4 linked regions of the Homo sapiens genome follow. Changing the gene in region 2 together with the main gene of any one other region gives a genetic interaction. Each region holds a gene or a part of one and is shown on either strand. Other genes may lie near its edges.

Region 1 (3,500 bases), on a different chromosome or scaffold from region 2:
GACACATTCAGTGTAGTAAAATGCCACCTTGAAAATCAACATTTATCCCTGTTCTGTGGAGCTTAAAAGGATTTAGTCTAAGCTGAAAGGAAATCCTTATAAGCACTAGGGGCTGCAGCTCTAGTCAATGAGATCTCTATAGAATCAGAAAGGAAGGCTTGCACTCTTGCAAAACAAATCACAGCAACTCCTTACAAGTCAGGCCACTCGAAGCACATAACTACTGTTAAAACAATATATTTTCCTTTCTTTCTCCCTTCACTATCATGCAATCTTCTCATTACTTTATAAGGTCATGGGGGAACAAGTTGTATTTTCCTCAAATGATGTGCTAAAGTACAAAACTCTATTTCATCAGTTTACATTTCCCCTCCTGTCATATGATTGTGAAGTGTTTAAAAGGGCACAGACAATGCTTTCAGAGTTACTAGGGGTTTTATAAAAATGATGTACCACCAAATTAATGTTGCTCAATGAATATATTTTCCTGTCAAGATAGTATTGTGTTTTTGTTGTTGTTGTTGTTGTGTTTTTTCTGAGACAGGGTATCGCGCTTGTTGCCCAGGCTGGAGTGCAGTGGCGTGATCTTGGCTCACTGCAACCTCCACCTCCCAGGTTCAAGATTCTCCGGCCTCAGCCTCCCGCGTAGCTGGGATTACAGGGATGCGCCACCATGCCCAGCTAATTTTGTATTTTTAGTAGAAATGGGGTTTCTCCATGTTGGTCAGGCTGGTCTCAAACTCCCGACCTCAGTTGATCCGCCCGCCTTGGCCTCCCAAAGTGCTGTGATTACAGGCGTGAGCCACCATGCCTGGCCTGTGTTTTTAAAATAAAATTTATAATCAAAATTACCTACTATACAATCAACTTCTTATTTTAGAAACTTAATTATAAAAACTGCTTCCTCAGTCCTGTTAAAACTGTAATGAGGCCGGGCACAGTGATTCACACCTGTACTCTCAACCCTTTGGGGGGCCGAGGCAGGAGGACTGCTTGAGTCCAGGAGTTCAAGACCAACATGGGCAACACAATCAAAACTCTATCTCTACAAAAATATATATATATAATAATTATTATTTTTTAATTAGCTGAGCATGGTGGGACATGCCTGTAGTCATAGCTACTCATGAGGCTGAAGTGGGGGGATCACTTGAGCCCCAGCATTCAAGGCTGCAGTGAGCTATGATTGCACCATTGCACTCCAGCCTGGGTGACATAGTGAGACCCTGTCTTCTAAAAACAAAACAAAACAAAACATACAAAAAACACTGTAATAATATTTGTTCTAGTAACAAGATAGCACCCTCTCAGTTAAGTGAAAATACTCAACAAAGAAAATATTGCAGGACAACGGTTAGGTACTAGGCCCTAGAGACAGAAAGGGTTCAAACCCTGGCCCTATTACTCGTTAGCTATAAGATCTCAGTCAAAATACTTTACCTTTTTGAGCCTCCCTTTTTTTTTTCCTTCATTTATAAAATGGAAGCTTCAGGAGATAATGCAGGTAAAATGCTCAAAAAAATACATGGCATGTAATTAAATAAATGTTAGCTATTAATAATAATGATAAAAAATCAATAATTTCAATGATCAATTCTTGCTTAAAGTAGTCCTAAAATATGTCAATATCCCATCTGTCTTAGTAAGTTCGTGGCACATAAAATAAGTCTGTGCTTCCTTTGTGATAGAGGACACTGCAAGTCATCTGAGTGACTTCCCTGCCCCTGCAAAATTGTTGAGAAGTACAAGGAATATGAAAGCTGGATTGACTATGTTTCCAGGAACAGTCCTAGAAGATACTTACTTTCAGAAGGACTTATAACACCAGATTTTCTTGTAATCTGTTTCTTCTAGAAATGGAACATAGAGAGGAAATCTAGCTAATAAATCCTTACAGTTAACTAAGGTTTTAAAAATTGTTGTCTGGAAACACATCATTCTGCTGATGTGTCTTAAAGTGGGTCTTAAAATAAAGATACTGAGATTAAAAAGAAATTTAACTGAGGAGCATCTCTAATCAAGCAAATTACATTAATCTTCACTTTTTTCCTCTTAATATATTCCTTGAGTACTTATTTTACTCTGAGGCTAATGGGAAATGCAAAGGTGAGTAAGGTATCCCTGAATCAAAAAGTTAATACCCTAATACAGACCGAGTACATCTCCTAATACCATGGGATTCCTTTAAGCATCAAATTTCTGAGATATCTGGTCCCTGAAGTATTAGTGTCAATCTACCATTTTAAGGATATTGATCAGAAAAAAATATGAAATTAACAATGAGCATTTAAATTTCACTTGTAAAAATACAAACTTCTCTATAACCATAAAAAATGTATACACCACACATTTATTTATAAATGAGAGTATTTGTGGAAGCATAGTATCACAGATCAGAGCTGCAAACATCCTTCTACAGCAATCACAATAAGCCATCTTCCTGGCATGAAAGGAAGGCAGCTAGTCACCAGTAGAGAGGCAGGTGCTTTCAAATTCATACTGAATAGTTCTCCCTTGCAAAAACAAGGGCTTTAATGAGAAGTCACACATTTAATACACTTGATCTTAGCCAAAAGGCCGAGAAGTGATCAGATATTTAATAGGTGTTCTAGCACCAAAAAGTCAAATGGCAAAAGGCAAAGTGACAAAAGTATACTGAAGTGCCCTCAATAAAATCTATTCTAGGGAAATAGATCACTTCTGAAGATAAGAGGAATGGGCAAACACTTCTGAAGGCACATACCAACTTCCCAGCTTTATCCTCCCAGAACAAATGCCTCAACAGCAGCAGATATCTTCTCTATTAGGACACTATGACTTCATACATTAAGGAATCTGTATGATTCATTCAAAAAATATTTATTCCCTACCAGCTCTGATATGGAACTCCCACAGGACTGCCCCAGAAAACATATTATTGTGTATGTCACTTTTTACCTCCAATTACATGTACTTAAAGACTTAGACTATAAGTTCCACAAGGACAGGGTTCATAACACCATATTCCTTCTGGCAACAAAGGCTGTTATACATGGCAGGAGTTCAATAAATGTTGCTGTCTAACTTCCAAGGACTATTCAATTTTGTTGTAGAGATAAGTCATATATGAATGTGCCAGGTGTAAGTGTGTGATTATAAATAAAGGATTGTCTTTTTTTCGTAATACAAGAGCATCTCTTCAACGTGCCCTTCAAAATTGTCCCCTTGGAACACTATTCAACTTATTCTAACAAGACTACTTTTCAAAACCCAAAAGAATATTTTAAAAAATCTCCCAAAGAGCAGCAAATTATCATTTGAAGCTATGTTTGATTTCCAAGACAAGGACATACATATCACGGATAAAAACAAATTGTACTCTCTGATCAGTTGTGCACAGATCAAAAAGATTTTTAAAAATCTAACTCTGGCAAGGGTTCAGAGAAATGGGCACTCTCATGCACAATATGAAGGAATGAAAACTGGGACTTTTTAGACGGTAATTTGGTAATATTTACCAA
Region 2 (4,946 bases):
ACTGCAGGCGTGTGCCATCACACCCACATTATTTTTTGTATTTTTTTTGTAGAGACGGGGTTTCGCCATGTTGCCCAGGCTGGTTTCAAACTCCTGGGCTCAAGCAATTCACCTGCTTTGGTCTCCCAAAGTGCTGGGATTACAGGCCTTATGAGCTACCACACCCACTCTAGAAACACAATCTAACCAAGACTGGATCAGGAAAACAATAATCTGAACGTCTATAACTAGTAGGAATTTTTAATCAGTAGCCAAAAACTTCAAAAAACAAGAGTCCAAGACCATATGGTGAATCCTACCAAACTTTTTTGAGACAGGGTCTCATATTCTGTTATCCAGGATGGAGTGCAGTGGTGTGATCATAGCTTATGCAGCCTTAAACTCCTGTGCTCAAGTGAACCTCCTGCCTCAGCCTCCCAAGTAACTGAGACTACAGGCATGTACCACCACACCCAGCTAACTATATATATATCTGTGTGTGTGTATATATATGTGTGTGTGTGTATATATGTATGTGTGTGTGTGTGTGTGTGTATATATATATATATATATTTTTTTTTTGGTAGAGATGGGGTCTTGCCATGTTGCACAGGCTGATCTCTAACTTCTGGATTATAGTGATCCTCCTTTCTCAGCCTCCCAAAGTGCTGGGATTACAGGCATGAGCCACCATGCCCAGCCCTCTATGAAACCAGCACCAATCCTCCTCAAGTTTTTCCAAAAACAGTGAGGAAAAGGGAACATTTCCACATTCATTCTATAAGGCCAGCATTATCCTGATATCAAAGACAAACACACGAGAAAACTATAGGCCAAATCCTTTAACACAGATGCAAAAATCGTCAACAAAACACTAGCAAACCAGATTTGACATCGCATTAAAAGAATCATGTACTATGATTAAGTGGGATTTATCCCTAGGATGCAAGGATAGTTCAACATATGCAAATCAATAGATGTGACATACCACACTGACAGAATGAAGGATAAAAAACACATCTCAAAAAATGCAGAAAAAGTACTTGACAAAATTCAACATCCTTTCATGATCAAAACTATCAACAGAAGGAATGTACTTCAACCCAACAATGGCCAAAAAGGACAAGTCTAGTATACTGAACATGGAAAACGTGAAAGCTTTTCCTCTAATACCTAGAACCAGACAAGGATGCCCGCTCTTGCCACTTCTATTCATTGTAGTACTGGAAGTCCTAGCCAGAGCAATGAGGCAAGAAGGAATAAGCAACATCCAAAAAGGAAAGGAGTAAGTAAAACTATCTGTTTACAGATCATATAATCTTACCTCCAGCAAACCCTAAAGATTTCTAACACACAAGTGTCAGAATACATGAATTCTACTAAGTTGGAGGATACAAAAATCAGCTCTTTCTACACACCAACAATGAAGGAAATAAAGGAATGCCTAATAAAGGAAATTAAGAAAATAATTCTATTTATAATAGCACCAAAAATAATACTTAGGAATGTATTTAATCAGGAATATGAAAGACTTAAACACTGACCTAGATGAAACAGATATATACCTGTATACTGCTAAAAAAATTAGCAAATCTCATTCATGCAATCCCCATGGTAACCACAAAGAAAATACAGAATATACACATAAGGAAGTAAGAAGGAAACTGAAACATGTCACTATAAAATAAAGGAAAAGTACGGAAAGAAATGTGTGTCCTTGGACACATTGTTTTGATTATAGTAGTCTCCTTTTATCCAAGGTGATATGTTTCAAGACCCTTCCAGTGAATTACTGAAACTATGGATGGTACCAAACCCTATACAGCTACGTTTTTTCCTATATATACACATACCTATAATAAAGCTTAACTCATAAATTAGGCATAGTAAGAGAGTAGCAACACTAAAAGAAATTAAAGATGCAAACTACTGCTAAAAGAAATTAAAGATACAAATAAGAGGAAAGACATCCTGTGTTCATGGATTGGAATACTTAATATTGTTACGATGTCCATACTACCAAAGTAATCTACAGATTTAATGCAATCCCTATCAAAATCCCAATGGCATTTTTACAGAAATAGAAAAATCCATCCTAAAATTCACAGACTCTTAAGGAACCACAAATAGCTAGAGCACCCTCCGGGTGGGGTGAAAGAAAGAACAAAGCTAGAGGACTCACACTTACTGATTTTAAAGCATACTACAAAGCTACAGTGTAGCAGTCATCCCTTATTTGTGGTTTAACCTTCCACCGCTTTAGTTCTACCCACAGTCAACTGTGGTTCAAAAACAGGTGAGTACAGTACAGCAAGATATTGAGAGATCACATTCACCTTTTATTACTATACACTACAATTGTTCTATTTTGTTATTGTTGCTCATCTCTTACTATGTCTAATTTATGAGTTAAACGTCATCATAGGTATGTACGTACACGAAAAACAACATAATATATACAGGGTTTGGTACTATCTGTGGTTTCAAGAATCCACTAGAGGGGTCTTGAAACATATCTTAGATAAAACGGACTACTGTAATCAAAACAGTGTAGTACTGCCCCGAAGACAGACATACAGACTAAAGAAATAGCCCAGAAATAAACTCTCGCATTTAGAGTCAAATGATTTCACCAAGGTACCAAGACCACTCCATGGAAGAGGACAATCTTAAATGATTTCGGGAAAACTGGATACCACATGTAAAAGAATACAGTTGGATCTTTACACCCTACACAAAAATTCAAGTGAATCAAAGATCTAAACATAAGAGCTAAAACTATAAAAGTCTTAGAAGAACACATAAAAAAGACTTCATGACATTGGATTTGGCAATGATTTATTGAATATGACACTAAAAGCACACAGAACAAAAATAAAAATAAATTCGACATCAAAATTTCTGTGCATCAAGGGACACAACAGAGTGAAAAGGCAACCTATGAAATGGGAGAAAATATTTACAAATCATATCTGATAAGGGGTTAATATCCAGAATATATACAGAACAACTCAACCAATAAACAAAAAACCAAATTTGAAAATGAGCAGAACTGAATAAACATTTCTCCAAAGATAACATACAAATGGCCAATAAGTACATGAAAAGATGCTCAAGAACACAAATAATCAGGGAAATGCAAATCAAAACCACAATGATACCACCTCATACCTATTAGGATGGCTACTATCAAAAAATACCAAAATTATGCCAGGCACAGTGGCTCACGCCTGTAATCCCAACACTTTGGGAGGCCAAGGTGGACGGATCGCCTGAGCCCAGGAATTCAAGCACAGCCCAGGTAATATGGTGAAACCCTGTCTCTACTAAAAATAAAGAAGTTAGCCAGGTGTGGTGGCACATGCCTATAGTGCCAGCTTCTTGGGAGGCTGAGGCAGGAAGATCCCTTGAGCCTGGGAGGTTGAGGCTGCAGTGAGCCATGATCGCACTACAGCACTACGGCCTGGGTGACAGAGGGAGACCCTGTTAAAAAAAAAATTAACAAGTGTTGGGGAGGATGGAAAGAGTGTAAAATGGTGCAGCCACTATGGAAAAGGGTATGGCAGTTTCTTAAGAAATTAAAAATCATATGATCCAGGAATTCCACTTTTGAATATACCCCAAAAGAATTGATAGCAAGGCCTTGAAGGAATATTTGCATGCCTAGGTTCACAGCATCACTCACAACAATCAAAAAGTGGAAGCAACCCAAGCATCTACTGATGGATGAATGGATAACAATGTGACACAACTAAAATAGATCATTCAGCTTTAAAAAGAAAGGAAATTCTGACACATGCTGTAACATGGATGAACCTTGAGTACACTACGCTAAGTGAAATAAGCCAGTCACAAGAAAACAAATACTGTGTGATTCTACTTATGAGATGCCTGGGGTAGCCAAATTCTTAGAAAGTAACACAGTGGCTGCCAGGGTCTGAGTGGAGGTGTGAATGGGTTGCTTAATGGATATAGGGTTTCAATTCTGTAAGATGACGAGTTCTGGAGACTGGTTGCACAACAATGTGAATGAACTTAACACTACTAAACTGTACAATTAAAAATGGTTAAGATGGCAAATTTTATATTATAGATGCTCCTTAACTTACCATCAGGTTACATTCTGATAAAACCATCATAAGTTTAAAATATCTTAAGTTGAAAATGCATTTAATACACCTAACTTACATCATAGCTTAGCCTTCCCTACCTTAAATGTGCTCAGAACACTTATGTTAGCCTACAGCTGAAGAAAATCATCTAACACAAAGCCTAGCTTATAATAAAACACTGAGTATCTCACACAACACTACAGAGTACAGCATCAGCTGTTTACCCTTGTGATTATGTTTCTGACTGGGGGATGTGGTCATTGGTGCTCCCCCACATCACAAAAGTATTGTGCCACTTATTGCTCATGTGGACAAAGATCAAAATTCAAAGTATGGTTTCTACCAAATGTGTATCACTTCCACACCATCGTAAAGTCAAAAAATCTTAAGTCTAAACATTGTGAGGGACAGTCACCTGTATTTGCATTTTACCACAATTAGAAATTTTTTTTTAAGTAACTTCAAATAACCATATTACCTTTATATTCCAAGATTACTTTACACTCTGAAAGATACCAGCCTTCCTCATCTCCTCAAAATCTTTCATGACATCGTAGTTTCTGTAGAAATCTGCGTATGCCTTCTTTCTTTGATCAGCCACACGAAACTAAAAAGCAACCATCCATTAGAGTTTATTTTTCAGATTACTGGAAATTAGATTCCAGATTATAATATATAAAGACAAGGTAGAACACATGTTTTTGTTCACCCTTTAATTTAAACCCTACATTTCCTAAGGGGTGGAGGTGGTGACAGATAAAAAGGAAGACAAAGTCTAAGAAACTGCTAAATTTGCAAAGAAAAGAATGGGGAATAAGGTGTCTATTTTGTTTTGTTCGAGGTTTCCGTACACAA
Region 3 (4,267 bases), on a different chromosome or scaffold from region 2:
CCTCAATCCCAAACCAGGTCTTCCACTGGTGGCTCAGGCTTTTACACCAATAAGATAATCGCAGTGTCATAGATCTGATTTTTGAACTTACAGGAAGTGTAGTCCAGGCCATTTACAAAGCTAATTTCTTTCACTTTACTACAAGAATGCTTGGTGACTATATAAATTACAAAATAAGACTGAGAAAAGACTAATCAATTCCATGGGAAAAACAGTGGTTGGGTTGGGTTTTCTGACTGTGTACATGTTGTATCTAACTATTTCAAGGCAGTTCCTTCACATATTACTATTAACGATTGATTTACTGTGGCAAGGTTGAGAATCCTTGGGTCATTACCACAGGTATGTGGGTCTGTGCAAAAGAAAACACAAACTTTGAGAGGGCCAGACCTGAATTCACTAACATTGAAAACAGTAAAACCTATCATCTTTGGATCCTTCTGTATCTCAGCAGTTATTTACAAACCTATGCATCACCCATGCCTCTATCTTTTCATCAATTAGGAGTCCTGCTTGTTCTATTTTTAATACCCATTTTGAATTGTGTTACTTATCTTCTCTATTGCTACCATCCTAGTCCAACCATCATATCTCACAGCAACAATTTCCTAACTCCTTGCTTTCTCTTACCCCTTCAATTCACTGTCTACATAGCAACTACGTGATTTTTCTTAAGAAAATCGAAACTCCTTACCATAACTTACAAAATCCTACATTAGCTGTCATTCCCTACCTCTCTGATTTCACAAGCTTCAATTGATCCAACTCCCTTGTAACTACGAAGACAGACTGGCCTAAGAGCTGTTCCTTAAACATGCCAAATTTGTTTTGTTTCAGGACATTTGCACTAGCTATTTTCCTGGATACTTGCCTCCCAAGCATTTGTACTGTATTTGGGTCACAGCTCAAATGTCAACTCCCTTGAGATGTTTTCCCTAATCCGCTCTAAAATGGCATCCTGCTTCCATCACAATCTCATGACTCTGCTTTATTCCCTTTACAGCACTTATCACTAAAGGCAATGTTTTAATTTATGTTTGTTGGTTTACCTCAGTATTATGTAAGCTCTGTGAGCGCAAGGGTCCTCTTTTCAAAAAAAAAAAAAAAAAAAAAAACCCACAAAAACCACTATAGTCCTGCCCCCAGAAAAGTAGCTAGCACACTGTAAAAGCTCAGTAAATGGTGTTCATTCCCTGGTCCCCCAATTTACCTTCAAATCTTAATCAAATTAATTTAACAATATTGTCACATTAAGGAAGTGTATATGCCCTTTGTGCTCTGAAACTCAGAAATACTAAGATTAATATGAAACTGTGTTCTAAACAGGTAAAGTAGTAGCTCAGGCCTAGGAATCCCAGCATTTTGGGAGGCCGAGACAGGAGGATGGCCTGAGTTCGAGAGTTTGAGACCAGCTTGGACAACACAGGGAGACCCCATCTCCACAATAAGTCAAAAAAAAAATTTTAAAAATTAGCCAGGTGTGGTGGTACGTACCTAGATTCCCAGCTACTTAGGAGGCTTAGAGGGGAGGATTGTTTGAGCTCAGGAGTGCCAGGCTTCAGTGAACTATAATCATGCCACCGCACCCCAACATGGGTGACAGAACGAGGTCCTGACTCTAAAAACAAACAAAAAAAAAACGAAACAAAACACCATGTGTTGTAGATTCAGTTTTTTGACAAAGGTGACACCAGGGAAATGAAAGGTCTTTTATATTTTTTTGCACTAGAGTCAGTCTGAACATATTTCGTTGTTGTTGTTCCTTAGTATAAAATACCTAGAGAAATATTACAAGGATTCTCTAAAAAGAAAGTACTTTCGTAAAGGCTTTATCCACGACCAACTGCCTATCTTTAGGTCCAAGTTCTATTTATCTAGTTGAACAACCACAGTTACAAAGTACCAAAGTTCTGGAAAACATATTCACAAGACCGAGGAGAGGCAAAGGCAAGATATTTATGCCTCTGTATACCTTGATGTTGCCTATTTCCTTTCCTATAATTCTTACCTGGCTTCTTTCTTCATGTCTATATATCACCTTTAAAGTTCAGCTTACTTCCTAGCTCCTAAAGAAGGTTTCCTAGCCTGTCCCAAGTCATATTTATTTCTCACTTACATGCAATATTACTGAATATTCTGCCCTTACGGCTACTTGGAGGCTCAGAATATGTCACTGTGTACTAAAAAGTTAACTACGGGCTTGCTATTTGGAATACATTTACTCCCAAAGCTGGGCTCTACTCTTAAGGGTCAATCACACGGCCCACCACACACAAAACGTACGAGGCTTGGATATAAACCTAAGAAAACATGCATCATCTCGCGAGTCCAGGTCAATCACGGACAGCTTCCCCAGGAGATCCGTGGCCCTTTTTTAGGCCTTTCTATCTTGAAAGAGCAGCCATGCAGATACACTAACCCCACCACTGGTACTTAAGCTTGTAAACGCCAGCAAGGAAAAAAAAACCAACAACATAAAACATGGGACGCGCAACTTTAGTGTAAACGCAAGAACCAGTCAGAAATAATCGCAAGCTAGGCCCCATACTTACGCGGGACGCCAGCCAAATCCGCGTGCGAGTAACCTGCTTCGCCGGCTCCGAAAAAGCCGGCCAATACCCCTGTGGTTTTGTCGCCGCTTCCCCCGCCTCCTTCCATGGTATCGCAGCAAACCGAGTGGTTCCCGCCGCTGCCTCAAGCCTGGGTGGTCCGCTGGGCCGTTACTCCTCAATAACAGCGGGTAACCCCGCGTTGCCAGCGCCTACTTCACACGCTGACATTCCGGGCGCCGGTTCCCGTTAAGCGCCACACTTCCGCTTTGCGGCAGTGTGCGCCCCGGAAGCCGGAAGCGCCTGACGGCAGCTTTCCGGTGGTGGGAAAGTGAACGAATCCCGAATCAAAGCGGCGCATTGAGGCAGGTGGGGTGCCAGTGGAAGAGGGAAGGCAGGCGAGTGTTTACGGCCTGACTTGGGAGGCCGGCGGATCAGCAATTGCAGAAGCAGGCAGCGGCAGAGAGGGAATGGTGCAGGCAGGCGCTGAGAAGGAGGCGCAGTCCATCTCTCTCAGGGTTAGTGAATGAGGCTCTCCGCCCGGGCCGGCCCGGGGACAGTGCGCTGCTGGTCCCAGCATGAATGCGGGCCCCGGCTGTGAACCCTGCACCAAGCGACCCCGCTGGGGCGCCGCTACAACTTCGCCGGCTGCTTCGGACGCCCGGAGCTTTCCCAGCAGGCAGAGGCGCGTCCTCGACCCCAAGGACGCTCACGTGCAGTTCAGGGTCCCACCGTCCTCGCCAGCCTGCGTCCCAGGGCGGGCGGGACAGCACAGAGGCAGCGCCACCTCGCTTGGTACGTGGGAAAATAAAAATCTTTGTCCTTCGCCTCGGCCCGAACCTTCTGGTCTCAGTCTGAGGACCCAGGGGCTCCAGTCACTCCTTTCTGGTCTTGTGTGCATCGTCACTCTTGAGGTCCACTTGCTGAGCTACCAAAGCCACTAGTGGGTGAATGGGGCCGCATTTTTCCCAGTGCGATTGATGTGAGAAACTCTGATGAGCAGTCACTCACAGGGCGGAAAATGGCAGGAGACTCCACCACCTGTTTGCTTCTTCAGGTTTGATTGAGAAATTGCCTTAGTCGTCAAGGAGATCTAATTGTGTATGTAAAACAGTAGGGCGCTTCAGCCTCTAGATAGGAAGAAAACAACTTCACTTGTTCAGATTCTGGGTCCCAGGGTGCAGAGCTATTAGTTTAAGCTGGCATTGTACCCGTCCCTGGTATACAGTGTTGAACGAGAGAAACTTGGCCTCTGCCTTCATACCTTAAAATCTATCTGGAGAGATAGACGATAGCAAAAGTTAATATAATAAAAGGTAATGGATGTTCTGATAGATGAATGACAGATTGTTTTACCTAACTGAATTTATGGAATCGAAAATAGTCCTCCAGAAGATGAGATGCTTATTCTGAGGACTGTAGAATGAGTAGGAGTTAGATGAAGAGGAAGTAAGAAGTGTTTCAGGAGTGCAACCGAGGCCGGGCGCGGTGGTTTTGCCTGTAATCCCTGAGCTTTGGGAGGCTGGGGCGGGTGGATCACCTGAGGTCAGGAGCTCAAGACCAGCCTTACCAATATGGTGAAACCCCGTCTCTGCTAAAAATACAAAAAATTAGCCTAGCGTGGTGGCGGGCAACTGTAATCCCAGCTACTCGGGAGGCTGAGGCAGGTGAGGCAGGAGAATCGCTGGCATCCGGGAGGCGGAGGTTGCAGTGAGCCG
Region 4 (3,500 bases), on a different chromosome or scaffold from region 2:
CTTTATAAACCTGTTCATGCCCTTTATACTCAAAAATTCTACTGTATGGAAGATCAAGTCTAACGGAAAACCTCAAAAGTTATTTAATAAAGACATTCTTAGCCACACTATTTATGTTAGTGAAAACTAGATCAATGGTTCTCAACCAGGTCAGTTCTGCCCCTTCATAATAGATAGGCATGTGGCAATGTCTAGAAATATTGTTGTTGCAACTTGGGAGGGTGCTACTGGCATCTAGTGGCCAAGGATGCTTTAAACAACCTTACAATTCAACAGTCCCCCACAAAACAACAGATGTCAATAGTGTTGGGAATGACAGTAAACTAGATCAGTAGTACTCAAACTTTGCCATGCATGAGAATCACCAGGAGGGCTTATTCAAACAGACTGTTTGGCCCCACCCTCAGTTCCTGATTCGGTAGGTCTGGGGTGGGACCCAAGAACTTGCATTTTTAACAAGTTCCAAAAATGATACTGATACTGCTGGTCTTAGGAACATACTTTGAGAAACACTGAACTAAATAATACGTGAATGCCTGAAAAGAAAAATAAGCAAACTAGCATGTAAAAACATGATACAATTTTATACAGCAATCAAAATGATATTTGGAGCACCCTAAAATCAACTATATTAGTCTTTAATATACACTTACATTTCTCCCTGCTTGTAATCAGTATACTTAATTTTTTCATATGAGAAAGTTTTCTTATATAGCTTTCTAGATAGCAACATAATCCAAAACAACCCAAACCATGAAAGTACATGACACTATCTCCAGTACGCAGTAAGTACTTAATACACATTAAACAGATGAAGAAAAAACAGATAAAACTAAAAATGGGCCGGGCACAGTGGCTCACGCCTGTAATCCCAGCACTTTGGGAGGCCGCAGCAGGTGGATCATGAGGTCAAGAGATTGAGATCATCCTGACCAACATGGTGAAACCCCGTCTCTATGAAAAATACAAAAATTAGCTGGGCATGGTGGTGCACACCTGTAGTCCCAGCTACTGGGGAGGGTTAGGCAGGAGAATCACTTGAACCTGGGAGGCAGAGGTTGCAGTGAGCCGAGATCATGCCACTGCACTCCAGCCTGGTGACACAGCGAGACTCTGTCTCAAAAAAAAAAAAAAAAACAACAACAACAAAGTTTTGCAACACATTACTGCATTACTGAAGGCCAGTAATCCAATAGCACTGCTTTTCTCCCATGGATTCTTCCATGAGGGACTCACTGCAACATGCAGAGCCCTCTCTGACAGATCTCCTATAGAGATTGTTTTAAAATGCTTGTTGATTGGCTGAATCAATGAATAAATGACACCACAGAGTTTCTGTTCACTCACACTACCAACCCACTCAAGTGACTCACCATCCAGCCAGCAGGTATGCCAGAAGCCACAGTGGCTTGGCCAGTCTTGGCATTCTCATCAAACTTGTCAGCAGTGACAAAGTCAACAGGCAAGGTAATCTTCACACCATTCTTCTCAGCTTTGGACATTAGGTCTTTGACAATCTTGGCTCCCTCTTCATCAAACAGAGAAGTGCCAATCTACACAGGGGAGCCAAAATGATGGAGGTCAGCATCTATACTAAGAACAAGACTGCCTCACAAAGCAGACAGGAACCAGACACAATACAATATAAAGGAACAATGCAAAGACGAAAGACTTGCCAAAATAAATAAAAATGGGAATTTTCAGGGCTCATGTCAAAAGACTGTTTTCTTTTTACATTTATACAACCTGCTATTATCATGGAGAGCTATTTCACATCCACTTGGCATTTGTTTCCTACCTCCATGTTGTTGAGCACCTTAAGGAAGGTAAAAGCCATTCCACCACCAATAATCATCTCATTGACTTTGTCCAGCATATTATTGATGAGCTGGATCTTGTCTGCAACTTTAGCTCTACAAGAGAAAGCAAGAATCATCACTTAAAGAAGAATGGACTAGAGAAGTGGTATTACATAGAAACTGAGTTTCTATTTCAAGGCACAGGAACAGAGAAAGTCTCAAAGTGACAAAAGTACTGCCTAACTTTGCCCTATGTTTCTCCAACCCAAAAACTCAATCCATTTCTAAGAAATCCTTTTAAGGTATGGCTCCAGACATCAGTGTATCTTTTTAAAAATTCCTCACCCCACTTACCATCAATACATTTTTTTTTAATTCTACCTAGAAGCTGATGGACAACAGATTTAAATCCATATTCTTTTTTTAAGCAGGGCTCAGAAGACCTACTCTTGTCTAAGGAAACTATGGGTTCCACATCTATTTTGCACATTCCCCAACACACACACACACACACACACACACACACACACACACACACAAATTCAGAGCATCAAGATTGCTAATTGTATCTAAGCACGATTGCTAATTGTGGGATCCCAGAGCCACTCAGAATTATCCTAACCTTAGAGCAGGGATTGACTGGACTGTATACTAAATAAATATATACTGAACAAAAATATATATTCCTAAAGTCATACCCTATGCTCAGTTGCTGGGACATTTTTTTCTCTCTCTCTTTTCAACACAAAGTCTCACTCTGTTGCCGAGGCTGGAGTGCAGTGGTACAATCATAGCTCACTGTAACCTGGAACTCCTAGGCTCAAGCAATCCTCTTGCCTCAGCCTCTCAAGTAGCTGCGACCACAGGCGTACAACACTACCCCTGGATAATTTTTCTTTTTAAATTTTTTTGTAGAGACAAGGTCTCACTATGTTGCCCAGGCTAGTTTCAAACTCCTAAGCTCAAGTGATCCTCCTGCCTTGGCCTTCCAAAGCACTAGGGTTACATGCCTAAGCCACCATGCCCAGCCTGGGACATTTTCTTTATGGCATTTATTTTTATTGGGTCACCCAATTCAACACATTTACTGGGCACCTACTCTGTGCCAAGCACTATTCTAGGTCTTTGAGAAACATCACAGGGCAAAGGCAACAGAAAGATCCCTACCCTTTGGGATCTTATTTTCTAGTACATGGAAATAAGATAAATACACATGTATCTTGCATCTCCCTATGAGACAAAAAAGATCCAAACTAAAGAGAAACAAAGTAATAGCCTGCCTTCCATAAACATTCCCATATAACTAAATCCCACTTACGTGGACAAACCACCTTGTGTCTGTTTCCTTCTTCATTCAATAAACAAGATAATGCCTATCCAGTGAGAAACCCTATGCTAGGATTTGTGAAAAGGAGGTATGAAACAACAGTGATGTGGGTGAACAGATGGCAAGAAACTATTTACTATTTATTTCAGTTGTAAAGATTGGTTACCACCAAGGGTAAAGATAGATTGTTTTAAATACACACACACACACACACACACATACACACACAAAGGGAAGAAAGCAGTTAGAAAGGAGTTCAATTTCTTCTAAAGAATAGCTTACAGCTCAAATGCCTGTTTCTTCAACAAATCAACAGAATGAAAGTAATAAATAGGAGATTATTACAAGAGATACCTAACAGCCAAAGGCAATGC

Evidence for each region. Genes that interact genetically often act in the same process or in processes that back each other up.
Region 1: changes in COX6C (region 2) and MAPKAP1 together harm fitness more than expected from each alone (negative genetic interaction), as found in Homo sapiens cells (one large-scale study listed by BioGRID).
Region 3: changes in COX6C (region 2) and TIMM23B together harm fitness more than expected from each alone (negative genetic interaction), as found in Homo sapiens cells (one large-scale study listed by BioGRID).
Region 4: changes in COX6C (region 2) and PGK1 together harm fitness more than expected from each alone (negative genetic interaction), as found in Homo sapiens cells (one large-scale study listed by BioGRID).

The regions. Positions count from the first base shown.
Region 1 is NC_000009.12:125,672,709-125,676,208, forward strand, and holds part of MAPKAP1 (target of rapamycin complex 2 subunit MAPKAP1), read right to left. Parts: intron 2,590-3,500; exon of another isoform or gene 2,446-2,589; intron 1-2,445. UniProt on the Homo sapiens protein: Component of the mechanistic target of rapamycin complex 2 (mTORC2), which transduces signals from growth factors to pathways involved in proliferation, cytoskeletal organization, lipogenesis and anabolic output.
Region 2 is NC_000008.11:99,882,921-99,887,866, forward strand, and holds part of COX6C (cytochrome c oxidase subunit 6C), read right to left. Parts: intron 4,699-4,946; coding exon 4,585-4,698; 3' UTR 4,570-4,584; intron 1-4,569. UniProt on the Homo sapiens protein: Component of the cytochrome c oxidase, the last enzyme in the mitochondrial electron transport chain which drives oxidative phosphorylation.
Region 3 is NC_000010.11:49,940,586-49,944,852, reverse strand, and holds the start of TIMM23B (mitochondrial import inner membrane translocase subunit Tim23B), read right to left. Parts: upstream 2,801-4,267; 5' UTR 2,659-2,800; coding exon 2,553-2,658; intron 1,619-2,552; exon of another isoform or gene 1,495-1,618; intron 1-1,494. Other genes in the region: PARG (poly(ADP-ribose) glycohydrolase), read left to right, coding at 3,128-3,344. UniProt on the Homo sapiens protein: May participate in the translocation of transit peptide-containing proteins across the mitochondrial inner membrane. the PAM complex.
Region 4 is NC_000023.11:78,121,248-78,124,747, reverse strand, and holds part of PGK1 (phosphoglycerate kinase 1), read right to left. Parts: intron 1,914-3,500; coding exon 1,799-1,913; intron 1,554-1,798; coding exon 1,374-1,553; intron 1-1,373. UniProt on the Homo sapiens protein: Catalyzes one of the two ATP producing reactions in the glycolytic pathway via the reversible conversion of 1,3-diphosphoglycerate to 3-phosphoglycerate.